Regions from separate parts of the Homo sapiens genome. Here regions 2 and 3 are each linked to region 1. The links come from fine-mapping of genetic effects on gene expression. A gene starts in region 1. Each other region holds a variant in brackets. All regions are shown on one strand. Distances are between the middles of the regions. Region 1 holds the start of CD93 (CD93 molecule). Region 2 has its middle 19 kb from the start of LINC00656. Region 3 overlaps LINC03125 (long intergenic non-protein coding RNA 3125).

Evidence for each region. PIP is the estimated chance that this variant, and not a neighbour inherited with it, causes the effect. A credible set is the group of variants that fine-mapping cannot tell apart.
Region 2: its variant is the best candidate, but not a certain one, in a credible set for the expression of CD93 in macrophages (Nedelec 2016, PIP 0.77).
Region 3: its variant is the best candidate, but not a certain one, in a credible set for the expression of CD93 in whole blood (INTERVAL, PIP 0.56).

The regions. Positions count from the first base shown.
Region 1 is chr20:23,084,292-23,088,507 of GRCh38, forward strand. It overlaps CD93 (CD93 molecule), which reads right to left and starts at 2,033. Exons shown (of 2, transcript NM_012072.4): 1 at 1-2,033. The coding sequence starts at 1,901. RefSeq lists enhancers at 2,017-2,196, 3,724-3,863.
Region 2 is chr20:23,111,391-23,115,606 of GRCh38, forward strand. No RefSeq gene overlaps it. Among named protein-coding and RNA genes, the nearest start is that of LINC00656, 19 kb to the right of the region's middle. The variant C/T (reference allele first, on the strand shown) is at 2,326.
Region 3 is chr20:23,158,067-23,162,282 of GRCh38, forward strand. LINC03125 (long intergenic non-protein coding RNA 3125) reads left to right here. Exons shown (of 6, transcript NR_199692.1): 2 at 1,706-1,802. It also overlaps the pseudogene RNA5SP478. Among named protein-coding and RNA genes, the nearest start is that of LINC03125, 12 kb to the left of the region's middle. RefSeq lists a silencer at 2,161-2,260 and an enhancer at 3,786-3,835. The variant T/C (reference allele first, on the strand shown) is at 2,469.

The sequences.
Region 1 (4,216 bases):
CGCTCTGGAACCCAGGAGTAACTGTCTGCCGCATTCTGGGGCTTCTTCTCCTTCTTCTCCTCCCTCTTCGCTCTCCGCTTGCGATAGACCAGTAGCCCCAGAGCCAGGGCCAGCAGGAGTAGGATGGCCACCACGGTGCCTAGGATGTAGAATAAAAGCAGCTTTTGCCCGTCAGTGCCATCGTTGTTTTGTGTGGCCACGGAGGAGTCCCCACCTGCAGGCTCCTGGGGGCCAGAGGCAGCTGTGGCGTGATGGATGCTGGGCTCCCTCCAGACGCCTGGGGACCCACTGGGGGCCAGCATCTTGAGTGGGGCAGATGTGATGGGGGCGTCAGATGACAGCGAAGGTCTACTTGTGGTGGGTGTAGCCTTGGGGGTGCCCTCGGGGCCCCTTGTGGGACTGGCTGTTGCAGCACGGGGCACGGTGCTCCCTTCTTTCTCTCCTTTGTCCTCCTCATCGGGGGGCCCAGATGGTGGTCCCAGAGACACAGGCCCCATGGTGCAAGAGACCCCATTTGGGGCCAGCACCCAGCCTGGCAGGCAGCCACAGTGGAAGGACCCTTGTGTGTTGAAGCACAAGCTGTCGCAGAGGGGGCCCCCCGGGCCCACACACTCATCCACGTCCTGGCACTGAGTCCCGTCCTCCCCGGCCAGGACGTAGCCCTCCTCACAGGAGCAGTGAAATGAGCCATCTGTGTTGGTGCAGCCCTGGGCGCAAGGCGAGCGACCCAGAGCACACTCATCCACATCCTGACAGGCCCCCTCTCCAGGACCGCCCGGCTCATAGCCAACCCAGCATTCGCAGCGGAAGCCCCCAGGGGTGTTGACACACTCCTGGGCACAGGGGGAGTCCTGGCATTCATCCACGTCCACACAGTCCAGCTGACTCGAGTCCAGCTGGTACCCTTGGGGGCAGCGGCACGTGTAGTTTTTCCCATGGGGTCCCAGGACGCACGTGGCCCCCCCACGACATGGGCTGGAGCTGCAAGGGTTTCGAGAGGCACAGGTCACCAGGTCATCCAGCAGCCGGAATCCTGGTCGGCAGCCGCAGAGGAAGGAGCCATCCCCCCCTTCAAAGCAGTCCTGGTGGCAGCCCCCATTGTTGAAGTTGCAGCCATACTTGGGGCTGACACAGAGGGGGCCCGAGCTGCCCCAGTCGAACACATCGGGGGCCTTCTCCTTGCACAGGAAATAATGACTCTGAGTCTCGTCCTTGTCACCTTCCCCACAGGCTACATTGGCCGCAGAGGCAAAGGGCACAGCCTCCAAGGAGGAACTGGTGGTCTGGAAGGGGGTGGTGTAGGTCACCTGACCTGGGCCCCCCAGGGCCAGAGGCCGGCACATGCCTTTGAAGCTGAACTTGCACACGAAGCCCTCAATGTTACTTCCGGGGGAGCCTGGGCTCCCACAGGGGCCCTCAGACCACTTGGGGAGGCGGCTGGGAAGGAGCGGCTGGGACAGGTCCAGCAGCAGAGACACACAGCGCTTGGAGATGCACGAGTTCCGGAGCTCCTTGTGCCAGTTAGAGTAAGGCGTGTCCTCCCCCCCGCCCACCCAGCTGAAGCCCTTCAGCGGCAGACTAGGGTCCAGGCACTTGCCCTTCTCTCGCTGGAGCCCAATCCAGAACTTGCTCATCCTCGCCGTCAGGGCTGCCTCCCGCCTCAGGAGCTGGGCCAGTACTCGCTGGACGTGCTGGGCCTCCTCCTTGCTCTTCACAGTGGCCAGGTTGCCCCCGTTCTGGTTGCAGTGGTTCTGGGCCTCGGCAGCGCTCAGCTTGCCCGAGTGGGCCGTGTAGCAGGCGGTCCCCACGCAGACCACCGCCTCCGTGTCAGCTCCCGTCCCCGCCCCGGGCTGGGTCAGGAGCAGCAGCAGCAGCAGCAGCAGGCCCATGGAGGTGGCCATCCCGGTCTCTGTGTGGCCCTCTGCGGGAGGCGAGAAGCCCAGCGGCGACAGGAGCTTCTATCTCGGCTCCCAGCTGGGCCCCAAGGGGAGCTGAGGGGTGAGCTGCAGCCACTCCGGCGCAGAGAAGGACACAAAGGCTGAGGGCTTTCCACGTCCCCCTGACCCAAGGCGCATCCTGTACTGTTGTACTTCTTATTTCTCACCGGATGTTGGGGCTTCCTGCAATGAATAGTTCTCTGACTCCTGCTGCCTTCATCACGGTGCTGTTGTTCATAAAAGGAGTCAGGCAGCTCTGCCGGGTCCCTGGCTCAGCACTGTGGAAACAGCGACGGGGGGAAGACGTTACAGCCCCGAGATACTGCCGGCTTGATTTTGGCTCCATTCTCTTTCTCATGGCATGAGGAGCCTCGGAGGCATGCCATGGAGTGAGCAGGGGCTTTGGGGGCTAGGAACTCGAGGAAGCTCCCTTAGTAACCCATAATAAAATTCCACTTTGGTTTGCAAACCACCAAAAGAGAAAAAAAAAATTCTGAGACTTAAGACACAAGGCCATGGATGGTTATAATTTTCAGCCTTTTTTAGAAGCAAACTGGACTTTCCTTTTGCCTAGCTCATGTTCTCTGTTGACTTTGGGAGCCTTTTTTCTTTTATCCTCCCATCGTGAACCTTAAATAGACAGGCATTTTTTAAATAGGATACGGGTCGTGGGAATGTCTGGGTTTTCAACATAATGCCAAGCTCCTCGATAATGTTAATCCAAATTGGGTGAAATTTGGCAGTTCTGGGGGTTTCATAGTGGAAATATTGCATTGTGAGGTGTCAGGGTCACAAAAAGCATCAGAAAGAAAATGAAAATGTGTCCGGCCTCGTGGCGCAGGGCTTGCAGGCTCACTTCCCCCGGCTCAGGATTCCTAGCAAGGGCCGGAAATCTGGGCAGGGAGCGGGAATCGAAGCCCGGGCAGGCCCTCCCGCGACACCGCGACTCGGCAAAAGCCAGGGACTCACAGTGTGCTTTTCCTGCAGCCACAGACCTTTGCTCATTGGTTGGGATCCCCCAGGAGGGGACCCTGAGACAGGATTTGGGGAGACTAGTTTATGTGGGAGGGGAAGTGAAACAGACAAGGAGGAAGCCAACCCATGATGACTTGCTGAGAAGGTGACCCTGGGCTGCTGGAGCCAGTGCCAGGAAACTCTGGGGGCCTGAGGGGACCACACCTCAGCACCATCTCAGCTGAGGGAGAGGCTCCACTGCTCTCCAAGTCCCCTGTCATTGGTAGCAGGCTGTATCTCTCACTTTGAGAGACTGACTATAAATTCTAGCCCTGCCCAGTGACCAGGGGTCTCTCTCACATAAAACTTGTTTCTATGGACAGACACCCTTGTGGCTCTCGTCTGACCCATGTCCAGTTTATTCCTATCAAGACAGCCACTTCCTAAGAGATCCCTGATGGGAGGAGAGTTGGGTTGGGGTGTGGGTCAGGGGAGATGCAGGAGGCAGCACAAGAAGACACAGGAAGCAACACAAGCACCGTGTCACTTACAGATCCCAGGGAGAGGGCAGTGCACCCCACGGGGCCAGCAAAAAGTGGGGAGCTGTCTGGGTCACAAACACTCACCTGGAGGGGGGTGAAGGGAGAGAGAGAGACCTGGGTCCTAAGCCTTTATTGGGGTCCAGGACGTTTCCCAAGCAGGTTTCCCAAGGGGACTTCTCACTGGTGGGTTTAGAGCAAACAGACACGGGCTCCGTGGGGTCCCTGTGGCTGAGAGGTGGGCATGGCGGCATGTCTGGGAAGTCCCTGTGGGGTGTGGAGTCACTGAGACCATCAAATGGGCTGTATCTGCCTGTCCCACAGGGAAATGGTCACCAGGAGGTGGGTGTACAAGGCAGATATCTGGGTTGGCCGCATTGAGGAACTGGGAGGGGGTGGAGCCCTAGACACCGTGTCAAGAGCAATAAACCCTGCTTCTGGTAGGAGAGGGTCCAAATTAGATTCAAAATGGATGCAATGCACAATTATAAGAATTCTCTACACAGCGGCAACTCTTTGGTGCTCTGCACTGACCGTGAGGGCCCCAGGGGAAGAAGCGCCACGGTGGAGAACACAGTGAACGCCTGTGGACCCGGCACCAGCGACCACCACAGTGGCCTCCATGGAGATGTTGAGTTGTCCCGGGGGCTAGGAGCTCGCTGGCTCCCCAAGGGACAAGGAGGCATCTCTGACTCCAGCTGGATACCTCCTAAGAATGTGCCTTAAGTCCTTGCATTTTAGCAAAGATATTTGAGACATTTTGGGAACTCTCCATAGAAGCCACCA
Region 2 (4,216 bases), 27 kb after region 1:
GGAAGGGAGATGGGGAAGGGAGAGGAGACAGGGCAGGTGCTTCCCGAGACTGGTGCTCTGTTGGGAGCTGGAGCACAGTCTCGAAAGGACAGGTGTGAAACGTCCAAGAGCTGACCTGCCAGCAGCTGCCTCCTGCCCCTCACCACAGAGGGTGGCTGAAGCTTTTATGCCCTGGCTCTCCCAGCTGCCCTGCACGGGCTGCTGCTCAGGCTAAGGACCGAGAAGTGCTGATGCTTGAGGGACTCATGGTCAGTGAGGACAGGCTGTGAGCTGAGCTCTGAGCTCGGGGCGAACCAAAGATGGGAGAGGAGCATCAGTGCCCCCCTCCCCATCACCACATTAGAATCCTGCGGGAACTGGCTGGGTTCTCGAAGGCGTTGTTATCGCCCTGTGCTCACACATAAGGACCCTGAGACCCAGGGCCACTAGGGTGAGGCGACAGGGCAGGGCCTGATGCACCTGTCGAAATCCACTTCTAGCTCCCACCCTGCCCCCAGAGACATGCGCCCCATGGGCCGGCACACAGCAAGGGGCTTCGGGGCAGGGTGAAAAAATGGCAAATACACACATTTAAGCCAAAATAATGAAATGGCCCTGGCCCTATCAGCCTCGAAGCTACATCAATGTCACTTTTTTTAAAAACGTAAGAGGAGCTGTGAGGACATCCAGCCCATGGTCACTCCAAACCTGCCACCACAGACAGTTGGGGCCTCCCCGGAGTCCGTGGGCCGAATTTCACAGGCGAGCATTCCCAGGGGTCCTCACCAGCTGACTTAGTCAGTTTGGGCTGCTCTGGCAGCCCCACAGGCAGGGGCAAAGGCAGAAATGTGTCTTCTCACAGCTCCGGAGGTTGCAGTTTCAAGATCAAGGTGTGGGTAGGCCCGGCTCCTCTGAGCCTCACTCCCTGGCCTGCAGATGCCCCTCTCCTCCCTGCTCCGCACACAGTCCTCCCTTTGTGAGTGTCTGCGTCCTCATCTCCTCTTCTCGTAAGGACATAGTCCTATTGCATTAGGGTTTCAGCTAGCCCCCAGGGTCTCACTTACCTTACTCACTGCTTTAAAGGACTTTTCTCCTACTAAGGTCAAGTTCTGAGGTGCTGAGGTGACAAGGTCAACAAATGAATTTTGGGGACACAATTCAGCCAGTATCACTTACATGTTCTGATTTTCCTCCCCAAAATTCTACATGCTACTAGTTATTACTATGCCCATTTTAGAAATTAATGAGATACTCAAAGAAGTGCAGTAACTACAGCAAAATGCCACAGCTCAGATGTCTCCAGCTTCAAAATCCAGAAGACCCAGACAGCTCCTCCAGCACAGGAAGCCAGGACATCAGCTATAACAGCTGTGTGGTTCCTGCAGGTGGAGTTTGGCCTTGCCCAGGTCCTTGGAGGCACGACTTCTGTGTCTGGTGGAACTGTGCAGCATGGCTCAGACCCACAAGCTGTGTGATGGCTTATCATCCCTGTGTAGGCAGGGCATGCTGAGCCAGGCTGACTGGACACCTCTGTTCAGGAAGCATTACCATCCTACCAGCAAGAGCAGGTGAATAGTTTACATGGTAATTAGCCAGCATGCACTGTTCCCATGTGTTCATTCATTTGTTGAAAAACAAAATAAGACAAAACACTCCTTCCTGGCCCTACTAGCTCCCTGGCTTTTCTAGAATATGCTAAGCACAGGCCACTTCAGAAACTGTGAGTTCACCTCTCCCCCTGCCTGGATACTCTTTCTTGTGGTGTTCTCCTCATAGCTCACACACTCAGCTTCTGCAGGTACTTGCCCCCTCCCCCACATTCCCAGGTCTTACCTCCCTCACCTCCCCATCTTCCTTCATTGCACTGGTCACCTTACAGCTCTACAAGAGCAGAGGCTCGCCTGATGTGTGACTAATCCATCCTTAGTACCTAGAGCAGTAGCTGGAGTATGCATCTACGTGGCAAAGGTACTACATGAACACATGGGTTCAGAGTTCAGCCCATTCCACATGCATCTGCAACTCTTCGTCAGGCCCCAGAATGCAGCAGGAGTTTGATACCTGCCATGGGGGCATAAGGAGCAGCAGGCATTGATTGATGGATGGGCTGCCTTACTCTGGTTTCTGCAAATAAAAATAAGAACAATCCAGTCAAGGTAGACAGGAAAAGCCCTGTTAAATTTCTCCTATCAGCTTGCCACTGGAATCCTGCTGCTGTTGCAGAGACCTGGAGACATGGATGGCTTTAGAGGCCCCAGCAGGCACAAGACCTGGTGCACAGGCCCGAGCCAGGCTGGAGAATGACTCAGAGGGCAGGGAGGATAGAGGACCACCAGCCATTTGTCC[C/T]GTGAGTTGCATTAGACCAGGAAAGCCAAGAACCACTTCAACTAGTTGAGGAAAGCTGTGCCTGTTATGCTATGTCCTTCAGAGAGCTTTACATTTTTACGAAGTCCAGAATAGCTGTTGGTCGTCTCACAGATACTTACTTACCCTGCTGCCTCAACCTCCCTCCACCATTCACTGTCCTGATGAAATCAGATGATTTGCGAGCAGAGCAACCTTGAGGGGAAATGACAGCCCCTGAGTTCAGTGTAGTCTCAGGCTGGGCACAGAGGCCAGGCAGCCCCCCGTGGGCCTGGGGTGGGCTGGGCACTGGGAAGGAATTGGCATTTGCTCTGCACCTGCTCTGTGACGAGGCACACACAGTTTACATCTAGGGTGCCACTGCATTCTTACATTTTATTTTAACTTTACATTTTATTTTAAAGAAACTCAGGCTTGGACAGTGAAAGAGACTTCCTTGTCTGTGGGCACACAGCCAGCCAGCAGCAGAACTGAGCTTCTTCCTGCTCCCAGACCAGCCCTTCCCCACTCCCCCACAATCTAGAAGCTGTTCTGGAAGCCGCTGACTGCCTCTTGTCCTTGAGCAGACTTCCTGAGGTCTACACCACCTCTCTGGTTCCTGGAGCAAGGAAGGCAGGTGTTTGTGTCTTCTGGCCAAGGATTCTCAGGAACCAAGAGAAGGGATGGTAACTTTGACACTTCTGTTTTCAGAATTGCTCCTTGTTCTTCCCACCGCATTAGAGCATCGACTGCTGCTTCCTCCAGTGGGACCCATCCTGGTGCTGGCAGGTTGCTCCAAGTGTGGGCACCGACACATGCTGGGCAAACCAGCCCTTGAACCAAGAATTCCATTTGCTGAGTCTGAGAGGCCAGGTTCTCTTTGGAGTCTCAGTTGTAGCCTGTAACATTTGGGCTCTCATAGGCCATATTTCCCACCGCTGTCCTTAAATAGTACTTTAGTCAGATCAGATAACATTACCATACGCTCTAACTCTCCTGTAACTACTAAACCGAAACATTTACAAATATGATAAAACAAGCCTAGAACACCAGAATGGTTCAATTTAACACAGTGATGTAACACAACAACAAAAGGACAGTTCCTGGCTAACACCAAGTCTCAGCCTTCAGAGCGCCATGGGGCTCACAGTGTAGGTTCCCCCAATTCCGAATTACTGGGAAACTCCATTTGCCCAGCAGGGCACTGGGCCCATGCGGCCTTCATATGACAAGGAAGTATCATTTAACCTGAAGGACTGCTTCTGGGTCCTTTTTGTTTTTGTGTGGTTTTTTTTTTTTTCTTTTTTTCTTTTTTTGACAGAGTCTTGCTCTGTCTCCCAGGCTTGGGTGCAGTGGTGAGATCTCTGCTCACTGCAACCTCCGTCTCCTAGGTTCACGCAATTCTCCTGCCTCAGCCTCCTGAGTAGCTGGGATTACAAGTGCCTGCCACCATGCCCAGCTAATTTTTGTATTTTTAATAGAGACGGGTTTCACCATTTTGGCCAGGCTGGTTGTGAACTGCTGACCTCAAATGACCCTCTCACCTCAGCCTCCCAAAGTGTGGGGGTTACAGGCGTAAGCCACTGCACTTAGCCATGGTTTTATCTGCCACAAAGAAAACGGTTCTATTGGGCCCTCTAAATGGAAGCATGGGCTCCGAGAAGTCCCAGCCATTCTGAGTTGCGTAGCGGGCCTCCCAGTCCCATAGGCCTGACCCCTACCTCTTTTTCTTTATTGCCACCCAAAAATGTCCCATACATAACATAACTGCAGAAAGCTGATTATCCCAAAGGAGTCATCTGAAAACCTGAGTTCTGTAAAACACTGATCTAGACTTTTAGATTTCTTACTCTTTTTGAGGTTTTATCCTCTAACTTTTTCTTAACTATCGATG
Region 3 (4,216 bases), 74 kb after region 1:
AAGGGCAACTCAGTTCATCTCAAACATGATGCCCAGAGAAATGTTATTTTTGCTCCCAGTTCCACTCTGTGATTAGCAGCTCACATCTTCCCATTCTCAGGCAGCCCTGGGTGCAGGCTGTAGGTGCCAGGAGGACAAGGGACCCCTCTTCTTTTTATCTCCATAAACCCATGGCTGAAACAAGTGCTTGGTACTCAGTAGATAATCCATAAATATTTACTAAGTGAGTGTTAATTTGGGCAAGTCATTTCACTTCTCTGAGACTCAGTCTCAAAAATGTGGGGAGATTAACTCCCAGCTTCCTCCTAGTATCGTCAAGCAGATTAAATGAGATTCAGAGAAAGCAAAGTGGTTTGCATTGTGTGTCTTTCATTATTCATAGTCAAAAAATCACAGCTGATGCCCAGAAAAGCACCTTCTACCCTGCTGACTTGCACCTCCACTGATCCGGGAGCATCTTCTCTTTTAAGAATATGCTAAAATATTTGCTCTGGGGGAAAGGCACTTGTGCTGATCCAAAGAGATTCAGGAAGGAGGAGTCCTTTATGGCCTCATCTTGCCCTTAGAAACTTCTTCCAGCCCATTTCTCCATGCTGAGGAGGAAAGCTCAGGTCAAGAGAGCAGTAGAGAAAAGATCAAGTGCTCCTATGGGCCTTTTGAATACCTCTAACCCAGCCGTGCAGGGATTCACCTTGCTTCCATGCATCACGACGAGGGAGGGTCCATCTCCATCCCCTCCTCAATGGAGGACATCAAGCCACTGGACCAGAGCCCTTCTCTGATCGCTACCCCCAGCTGTGTTTCATGGGATAAGAAATCAGGTATTGTAATCCTCTAAAAGACACAGAAGCAATTTTAGAAAACATACATTGAGCTGGTGCTGACATTTTGGGATAAGTACATAAACATGGCATCCAAGAATTTAAGACAAGCACATTGCATGGGTGTCCAACATTTGCCATTGGCCATATTTGTGTTTTAAAGAAGAATTGTAACCTAAAAATAGGAATCACACTTTATTCATTATATTTTTCACAGAGCTTTATTTTTGTATTGAAGGCTGGAAGCTATTAAGCTGCTGTCTCCTTACAACTGACCAAAGCCTGTGTGTGCACGTGATTTTTATTCTGGTACTTTGCCCTGGGACATCATTTCTGCCCCTTGCCACCGGTGCAAGCTGGACTTGAAGACAAGGGTCCCAGCACCTGGTGGAACCGCCCAACAAGCACCAGAGTCAGTCACTGGTTCCTTGTACCCCATTTTCAAGCACCCAAAGTGGTTCTTCCCCTCATGTATCGTTAGATCTACAGCTAAGCCAAATAGTGAAGGTGAAGACAAAGGAAAGGGCTCAAGATAACATTTCCCTTCCCTGAGTTGAAGTCATTAGTGACCCAGAAAACAGGAAGGGGGTGAGGCCTCATTTAGGGAGAGGAAAAGCAGAGGAAGTGGCACCCGGGGGTGTGGAGCAGGATGGAGCACACTTGAAGTGCTCCTTAGAAGGAGGCTGGTGGAGCCAGCCTGGGGGTGGGGTGGGTGGGGAAGCTTGGCTGGGGACACAGAAGGGCAGAACCACTCCCAGGATTGTTTTCCAAGGACAATTTACAGTACCCATTGTTGGCTTTTCCTCTGGGTAATTAGACACAACATGGGAGCAAGGGATCCTCATTCATCTTGTCACTGGGTTTTAATTTTCTTGGTCCTTCAGCTCCCAGCTGCCCTGGCAGATGTTCTGTCCACAAGTTCCAGGAAGTTCAGCAATGCTTCTTCTGCACTACTTTCACCCAGAGCTGACATGGTCTCTGGTAAGCAGCTTTAATTTGATATGGCTGGATGTACTTTGGGGCTGGCTGCAGCAGATGAGAAAAGCAACTCTTTTTATGATTTCTATAGCAGGGTTCATTGTGAAATTTAAAGCAGAGAGGAGACTTATTTCTTTACCCTGGGTGTGACACCCTTTGAAGCTAGCTGAAGTAAAATGCTTTGCCAAGGAGGAGGGAATGAAGGAGTCAGCATACAGAATGAAACTGGACCTTAATCCATCAGTGAGATAGACACGGCTGCTTAACAGATGAACGAATACATTTCCATGGTGCAATGAATCATTTCAGTTGTCCCCTTAAGAGTACATTTCTGAGATGTATTTCTATAGTGTGTGTGCGTGCACCTGTGTGTGTGTAACCGAAATATAAATTGGGCTTCATGTGGTCCAGGCTATACACAGAGTCACTGTCAAAGCAGCACCAGGCTAAAACAAAAGGCATCTATGGTTAGTTTCAGTTTTCACTCAGGTGTCTGGAAGAATGCTAAAAGGGATTCAATTTAAAAACCAGAGCAACACTTCTTAAAATTATGTTTTATTTATTTTCTTATTCTTCCAAAACTCGGTAGCCTTTCACTTGAAATGGCAAACATTCACATCACTTCCAGCTTTTGAGTCTTTCCTATTTTCATCTTCTGTCTGTGCTCTA[T/C]CAGCATTTTACATGGACTGTAAAGTTTTCTCCCTATTTACCCATTACCTGAATTCTTCAAAACAAAAGAGGGCTCAGAAGCTGATCCAAGAAGCAGGAATCTCCTTCCCTTCCTGTCTCCGCCCACCCTGCCTGTCTTCGTCCTCTCAACAGTTTCTGCACCCCAGACTTGGCTGGCTAACACCCAGCTCTCCTTAGGAGCAAGCAAGGGAGAGGCTGAGACTCATTCAGAGGTTTCCAGTCCTCTGAATGGGTCCTTAGGCAATGGTCAGGAAATGAAGAGCAGGGGTTTAGAGCAGGGAGAAACTGGAATTTTTTTTTAAGCCTATAGCACCTGATAGTCTCAGTCTCCCATCAAGGTACTAACCAGGCCAGACCCTGCTGAGCTTCTGAGATCTGCTGAGATGGGGCATGTTCAGGGTGGTATGGCTCTTGGCAGAAATATTATTTTCTGTGTTGCTAAATCATGTTGCTGCCCTAGCTTCCAGACCCAGCTCTGCAGACTTCTGAAAAGAAAAGCCCATATGGACGGGTGCCACCCAAGGGCATCTCCGCTGACAGCCCAACTCCCCCCCAGCCCCCAACACATACACAGGGCAATGTCTCCTTGTCGGGTGTGAGTGTCACCCTCTGGAGTTCTCTGAGACTCTCCCACACTGAGCAGCCTGGAGTCCAGCCCTGGGTTTCCTCACAGGCCTCAGGGTCGGTGGTGGAACACACCAGGGTCCTTGCTTGTGGAAACTCTCAGAGGAGGCTGTGCCACCAAGTAAGCGTCCGTGGGGTTTCGGATCGCCTCTGGGCCACTCCTGCCTCTAGGAACCTCGGCTGGCACCTCGAGGTGTGGGCAGAGGGAGAGGCTGAGGCAAGACAAGGCAGCAAGGTGAGCCCAGGAGGCCGCAGGAGCCAGCCCCAGCTCCCCCAGGAGGCCTGGCTTAGGCATGCTGAGGCTCCATCCCCCTAGCCTGCTTTTCACAAGTCAGGACTGACATTCTGTGCAGACCCAGGGATCCTGACAGAGCTGAGTAAAGTATGAGTGTGCAATCTGAAAGTTCTTGAGCCACACTAGCATGCGAGCACAGGAAACTGCTGTGCGAGTGCAGGGCCCTGGAGCAGATCCTCCACTGTGGAGGGGCGCAGCGGCTGTGGCCCCGGGCTGAAACGATGGCTCCCCAGCCTTCCTAGCTGTTGGGGGTGGGGTGCAGCGGCTGTGGCCCCGGGCTGAGACGATGGCTCCCCAGCCTTCCTGGCTGCTTCCCCATTTCCTCCCACACAGGCTCACCGCTGTAGTCCTGGACACACTGTTGGGCTGGTGCATAGCAGGAACCCAATACATGAGTTGAGTGACTGGATAAACCCGGAGGCACTGACACCCTCCAACGGGGAACCCCTTCCTCAGTTCACCTCGCATTTGCAGAAAGCAGAGTAACATATATGACATTACTAGAAAATAGCAGGGGAAATGTAAAAATTGGGTTCAAAGTAGCCTCCTGGAGTTGAAATGGCTGCAGCTGTGTGGAATGGAACAGCAAAGGCAGCTCCACAGCAGAAAAGGGTCTCAACTTAGGCCCTGGGAGATGGACACAATTTCCCACCAGGGAGAAGAGAGGCCAGACGCCTCTAGCCACAGGGATAGTTGGCACACAGAGGTGTTAACTTTGGGATGAGTGTGGTTGAAGCCAGGGAAGGCCAAGCCCTGGCATCTCACATTCAAAGGAGCAGGTTCTCCTTGGAGCAGCCCCCAATCCCCC